2 linked regions of the Homo sapiens genome follow. The protein of the gene in region 1 interacts with the protein of each later gene in a pairwise test. Each region holds a gene or a part of one and is shown in the gene's direction. Other genes may lie near its edges.

Region 1 (3,552 bases):
CAATGTGTATGTGGCTTGTTTCCAACCTTTTGCTAAAAGTGGACATGAGGCAGTCAGCATGTGTGCACAGTGACCATTCCTTGCATGTATAAGCATCTCTGCAGGACAAATTCCCTGAAGTGCAATTGCTGAATCAAAGAACATTTGCACTGTACAATTTTAATTATCATTGCAAATCCTTTCCTATTAGCTGAGTTTGATGGCACAAGTTTTCCCATAACTTTACCAATACTACTAATGTATTATTAAATTTTAAAATCTATGCCAATCTTCATATTTCTTCTTTTGATGGACATTGTTTTAAATAAGAGTGAGGTTGAACATCTCTTTCACGTGTTGATGTTTGTTTCTTTTTATGGAAGTGGTTCCTTTATTTTTTTGCTCTTTTTCTTTGGATTCTTTAAAAATATTTACTTTTAAGAATGTGTATTAAAATTGATTTTTTTTTTTTGAGATGCAGTCTCTATCGCCCAGGTTGGAGTGCAGTGGTGTGATCTCAGCTCACTGCAACCTCCACCTCCCAGGTTCAAGCCATTCTCTTGCCTCAGCCTCCCGAGTAGCTGGGACTACAGGTGCCCTCCACCATACCCCGCTAAGTTTTTGTATTTTTAGTAGAGACGGGGTTTCACTGTGTTAGCTAGGATGGTCTCGATCTCCTCATGTTGTGATCCACCTGCCTTAGCCTCCCAAAGTGCTGGGATTACAGGCATGAGCCACCACGCCCAGCCAAAATTGATTTTTTTTTTTCTGTCTTGGGTTGCAAAATATTGCCTTTCAACTTTTGGAGGGTACTTTTCATTACTATCCTTTATCTGCAAAAACTACCATCTTGAGCATATTCAACTTCTGTGAAGTTAAATTGATCCACTTTTTTCTTTTACAACTGTAAAATCCATCAGTTTCCCAGGATTTTGGTTTGAGCAGGGGCTGTCTTTATCAAATGTGAAGTTTTCACTTATTCTCATGTCTTTTTCTGAGCTCTCCCTCATGTTCCATGGGTCTGTTTTCTCATTTTTGCCACAGTGCCACACTATTTTTATTCTTGCGACTTTGTAACAATTCTTGTTAAAAGTTTATTTTATTGCGGGGAGAAAAGGTCTCACTTGCAAACAGAGAGAAGCTGGAGAATTGTGTCTTTGCTCCCTTGATAAGGATTGGGGCTGGGGTGTTTCCTTAGGGACGACCTGGCCCATTTGCCCTTCCTGACCATGTGCATGAAGGAGAGCCTGCGGCTGCATCCCCCAGTCCCGGTCATCTCCCGCCATGTCACCCAGGACATTGTGCTCCCAGACGGCCGGGTCATCCCCAAAGGTGCTCACAGCCTCACGGGGAGGAGTCTCCTGGGTAGGAAGAGGGGCCCCTCAGTGAAGGAGGCCTTCTCCTGACTGCTCCCTTCTCTCCCACAGGCATTATCTGCCTCATCAGTGTTTTCGGAACCCATCACAACCCAGCTGTGTGGCCGGACCCTGAGGTGCGGGGCCCCTCTCTCTGTTTTTGTCCATTCCAAGGCTCCTAGAGGAGGGGGCAGGGTTTTGATCAGGAGTATCCAACATCACCTCCCTCAAAGACACACACAACTGTCTGTCTCTCCAAGGCTGGCGGACTGGGAGACCCCACCCAACAACCCTTCTTGGTCTCACCTCCAGGTCTACGACCCCTTTCGCTTTGACCCAGAGAACATCAAGGAGAGGTCACCTCTGGCTTTTATTCCCTTCTCGGCAGGGCCCAGGTAAGGGCGGCCTGTGTCTGAGGTGGGAACGGGTTGATGGGTGCAGGGGTCTGGGCATGACAGTGGGGAAAAGGGGGACATTGTAGATGGTCCAAGTTCCAGCTCTCTTTCCCTCACCTCCTCTGGAGTTTATAGGAAAAGGTCCATAGAGTACGGTTGGGTTGGTCCTAGAAGGGTCTGTGGTGTGCTCAGAGCCCCCTCCTACCCCACCTTGGTCTAGGCTGGGGGTTGGAGCTCGGCTAGGCTTGCAGGATATGCAAGCCCGCATGGGGATCCAGGCACGGATACCCCCTTCTCTATTCCTCAAACTGCTCTAGGTGGGGTTGGGTGTCCCAGGCCAGGTTACCGGCTTGATGGGGCCAGGATGGGGCTCCTGGGTGCAGTCAGAGTTCCCACCTCCCTCCCCTAGGAACTGCATCGGGCAGACGTTCGCGATGGCGGAGATGAAGGTGGTCCTGGCGCTCACGCTGCTGCGCTTCCGCGTCCTGCCTGACCACACCGAGCCCCGCAGGAAGCCGGAGCTGGTCCTGCGCGCAGAGGGCGGACTTTGGCTGCGGGTGGAGCCCCTGAGCTGAGTTCTGCAGAGACCCACTCTGACCCCACTAAAATGACCCCTGATTCATCAAAAGTGAAGCCTAGAATTACCCTAAGACCCTGTTCCACAGTCCTGTATTCCATCCTAGATATCTACTCAAAATAATTGAGACAAGTGTTCAAACAGAAAGACGCTTGTGCGTGAATGTTCATGGCGGCCCTATTCACAGTAGCCAAACGATGAAAACAACCCCAAGCTATATATTACCAGATGAAAGGATAAACAAAATGTGGTCCATCCATACAATGGAGTATTACACAGCCATAAAAAGGAATGAAGCAGTGATCCCTACTACACTGTGGATGAACCTTGAATGCATGATACTGAATGAAAGACGTCAGATGCAAAAGGTCACATAGTGTACTGTCCTTTTATACGAAATTTCCAGAACAGGCCAATCTGAAGAGATGCATAGCGGATTGGTGGCTTTCAGCAGCTGTGGGGAGGTGGGACTGAGGAGCGACTGCTAATCAGTATGGGGTTTCCTCCCGGGATGGTGAAAATGTTCCGGACCTAGATAGTGACGAAGGTAGCACGACACTGTGAGTGCACTAAATGCTATTGAATTGGACACTTTGAAATGGTGAATTTCGTGGTATGTGAATTCTACCTCAATCAAAAAAATTTGCTATTTTATCTCACATACATTTTTTTTCTGTCCAGGTTGTTCATATAATAATATGCTGTGAGCATCTTTCCATGACATTAAATCATCTTAGGAAACATTATTTTGTGGTCCTCAAAATGTGTGTGTTAAGTGTTCAAATCAGTCTTAATTTAAAAAAAGACATCATATTAGAAAATAAAAGTGTTTTGTCTCACTTTGTAAGAATTAGCTTCATATACATTGACTATTAGTAACAAATTGAGTTATTCTTCATCAAGTAACTTTTGGGGTAGAGATCTCATTTTCACAGCAATAGATGCACAAATATTCATGTAAGATACAGGTGTGGTTAGACACCTTTCATAGAACAGTTATGATCTGGAAATTCCACAGACACTGAATATTTTGGTCGTATTAACAGAAGTAGATCACTGAGAAGGGAGAAGGTGACTTTTCAGCTCCCCCAGGTAAATGCTGATTTCATCCTCACATCGATCTTACAGATTGTAGATGAACTCACTTGTTCAAGGTCACTCAGTGAAGGGTGGAGTCAGGGGTGAATCTGAGCAGTTGGCATCAGAGGTCATGCCTTATCGTATCAAGGACATGATTTTCAAAGCG
Region 2 (3,500 bases), on another chromosome or scaffold:
TACTATTGAGCAGTGCCGGCGAGAGGGCTTCAGCCAGAAGATGCAGGAGCAGAAGAATGAAGGCTGCCAGGTGTATGGCTTCTTGGAAGTCAATAAGGTATCAGGAGGGATCAAGACAAGATAGGGCCAGCTGGGCTGGGCAAGCTCCACTGGGAACCGAGGGCCCAGTCAGGCCCTGAGTAGGCAAAAGGAGGACACAGCCAGTGAATGAGAGAGAATGTTCCTTACAGGTGGCCGGAAACTTCCACTTTGCCCCTGGGAAGAGCTTCCAGCAGTCCCATGTGCACGGTGAGTGATCTGCACTAGCTGGGGAGATTTAGATGCTGGCCACCTTCTTGGTGAGCTTGAGTGGTCCTCTTCTGCCTGCTGCTCATTTGTCTTGGGCAACCATTTGGCCAGAGCAGGCCTTCATCTCAGGGCAGCAGTTTGGCACAGTGGCTAAGAGCACAGGCCGAGGAGCCAGACTGCCTGCATTCAGATACCAGTTTCAGACCTTACTGGCTGTGTGACTTTGAGAAGGTTTCTTAATCTTTTTGACTCCTGTTTTCTACTTTATAAAATGTTGTGAGGGCACTTATCTCACAGGGTGTGTGTGCAGGTTAAAGATGATAGCACGGAGCCTGGCTTGTGGTAGGTACTTGTTGAAATGGTAGCCCCCCGTGTCCGATGATGACCTGTGCATGAGGCTTTGGGAGAAGCAGAGCTAGGTTGGAGCACAGGTTCTGCCACACCTGGGCTATGTCATATTTGGGCCCTATTTAGTTGCTTCTTCTGTAAAATGGGGATGATGATAATAGTACCCACTCACAGGGCTGTTGGGGTGAACAAATGAGATTTATTCTCATTCATTTGTTCATTCATGCATTCACAAAATATTTAGTAATCACCTACTAGTCTAGTTGCTAAGGGTACAGTAGTGAACAATCTGTGCCCTCAGAACATTCTAGTAAAGAAATAGACAATAAGTATATAAAATATAAATAGTCCCCAATTAACAATGGTTCAGCTTGCAATTTTTAACTTCATGATGGGTATTACATGCATTTTTCACTTAACGATATTTTCTTTTTCTTTTTTGAGACAGAGTCTCACTCTGTCGCCCAGGCTGGAGTGCAGTGGCATGATCTTGACTCACTGCAACCTCCACCTCCTGGATTCAAGTGATTCTCCTACCTCAGCCTCTTGAGTAGCTGGGTGTACAGGTGCGTGCCACCACGCCCAGCTAAGTTTTGTATTTTTAGTAGAGATGGGGTTTCATTATGTTGGCCAGGCTGGTCTTGAACTCCTGACCTCAAGTGATCTGCCCGCCTCGGCCTCCCAAAGTGCTAGGATTACAGGCATGAGCCACCGCACCTGGCCGACTTACAATATTTTCAACTTGCAATGGGTTTATTGGGACGTAACCCCAGTGTAGGTCAGGGAGCATCTGTATATGGTATATCAGATGCTGTTAAGTCATATGGACCAAAACAAGGCAGGATAAAGATGGTAATGGGGAGGGGCTAGGGTAGGGCAGTGAGGGTCCTATTTTAAATATGGAGGTCAGGGAAAAACTCTTTGATGAGGTAATATTTTAGCAAAGACCTGAAGACAGTGAGGGAGCCAGCCATGTGGATGTCTGGGGAGGAAGTGTTACAAGCAGAGAGAACAGCAAATGCAAATTCCTAAGGCTAGAATGTGCTTGGCAAGTTCAAGATACAGTAAGAAGGTTAGGGTGGCTGGAGCAGAGGAGCATGCTTAGAAATGAAGTGAGAGAGGCCGGGTGCAGTAGCTCATACCTGTAATCCCAGCACTTTGGGAGGCCGAGGCGGGTGGATCACCTGAGGTCAGGAGTTCAAGACCAGCCTGGCCAACATGGTGAAACCCTGTCTCTACCAAAAATACAAAAATTAGCTGGGTGTGGTGGCACACGCCTGTAATCCCAGCTACTCGGGAGGCTGAGGCACGAGAATCTCTTGAACCTGGGAGGTGGAGGTTGCAGTGAGCTGAAATTGCGCCATTGTACTCCAGCCTGGGTAACAGAGTGAGACTCCATTTCAAAAAATAATAATAAATAAAGAGAGGTCACAGGGCCATATCATGCAGGGCTTGCAGGGGCATTGTAGGGACTCGGGCCGTTACTCTGCATGAGATGAGAAGCCATTGTAGGGCCCTGAAGAAGGTGAGGCATGATCTGACTTAAAAGCTCTCCAGCTGCTCTGTGGACAAGACTGGGCAGGGGAAAGGACAGAATCAGAGAGGCCCATTAGGAGGCAGTTGCAGTGATCAATCCAGGCAAAAGATGGTGGGGCACGGCCCAGAGTGGCAGTGGAAGTGGTGGGAAGTGACTGGCTTCTGGATGTATTTTGAAGGTAGAGCTGAGAAGAGTTCCTGATGGGCATGAGGGATAAAGGAAAAAGGAGTCAAGGATGCCTCCAAAGTTTTGTACCTGAGTAGTAAGAAGGATGGAGTTGCCTGTAATCCTAGCACTTTGGGAGGCCAAGGCAGGTGGATTGCCTGAGCTGAGGAGTTTGAGACCAGCCTGGGCAACATGATGAAACCTTGTCTCTACTAAAAAATGCAAAAAATCAGCCGGGCGTAGCGGCGTGCGCCTGTAGTCCCAGCTACTCGGGAGGCTGAGGTAGGAGAATTGCTTGAACCCAGGAGGCGGAGGTTGCAGGGAGCCGAGATTGTGCCATTTCACTCCAGCCTGAGCGACAGAGTGAGATTCCATCTCCATTAAAAAAAAAAAAAAGGATAGAGTTGCCATTTAGCAAGATGAGGGAGACTCAGGGCAGGTTTAGATGTTCGGAAATGGGATCGTACAGCTGGTATTCGGCTTTTGACGTGTTCAGACCAATAGCATCTGGGTGTCCTTCTAGACACCCAAGGTGTCAAGTAAGTTTTCCATTCAAGCCTGGAGTTCAGGGAGAGGACTTGCCTGGAGATGCAGATGTTGGCATCATCAGCATGTGTATAGAGCTGTGGGACTGGATGAAATCACCCTGGAGGTGAGGGCAGATGGAGAAGAAGGGAAGCTCAAAGGGCTGGGTGCCAGGCCTCCCACATTAGAGGCCAAGGGTGTCAGGGGGAATTGGTAGGGGAGACTGGAGGAGGAGTGTAAGCTGGGAATGTGGCATCCTGCCAGCCACGGACGGGTGTTTCAAATACCACATCAGATGCTTCTGGATGTCAAGCGGGAATTGACCATGGCATGTACATGCAACAGTCACTTATAGCCTTGACTGAGTCATTTAAGGGTGTGACAGGACCACCCTAGAGTGGGTTCGGGAGGGAATGGGGGAGGAGTTGGAGCCAGTATTGACAGCTCTATAGTGGAAATTGCCTAGGGGAGGAGAGAGCATGAGCTGAAGCTAGAGGGAAATGTGGAGTCGAGGGAGGCTTTTCTAAGGAGGGTGATGTAGCAGAATGTTAATATGCTGTTGGAAATTATCGACTAAAGAGCATAAGTGATGCTCCAGAGACGAGACAGTGACCGGAGTGAAGTCCTGGAGAAGGAG

The links. The genes of interacting proteins can lie anywhere in the genome.
Region 2: the proteins of CYP4F2 (region 1) and ERGIC3 interact in binary tests that used the Homo sapiens proteins (3 or more experiments, as listed by UniProt).

What each region holds. Positions count from the first base shown.
Region 1 is NC_000019.10:15,877,523-15,881,074, reverse strand, and holds the end of CYP4F2 (cytochrome P450 4F2 precursor), read left to right. Parts: intron 1-1,177; coding exon 1,178-1,311; intron 1,312-1,406; coding exon 1,407-1,471; intron 1,472-1,646; coding exon 1,647-1,729; intron 1,730-2,138; coding exon 2,139-2,304; 3' UTR 2,305-3,052; downstream 3,053-3,552. UniProt on the Homo sapiens protein: A cytochrome P450 monooxygenase involved in the metabolism of various endogenous substrates, including fatty acids, eicosanoids and vitamins.
Region 2 is NC_000020.11:35,548,578-35,552,077, forward strand, and holds part of ERGIC3 (endoplasmic reticulum-Golgi intermediate compartment protein 3), read left to right. Parts: coding exon 1-97; intron 98-230; coding exon 231-288; intron 289-3,500. UniProt on the Homo sapiens protein: Possible role in transport between endoplasmic reticulum and Golgi. Positively regulates trafficking of the secretory proteins SERPINA1/alpha1-antitrypsin and HP/haptoglobin.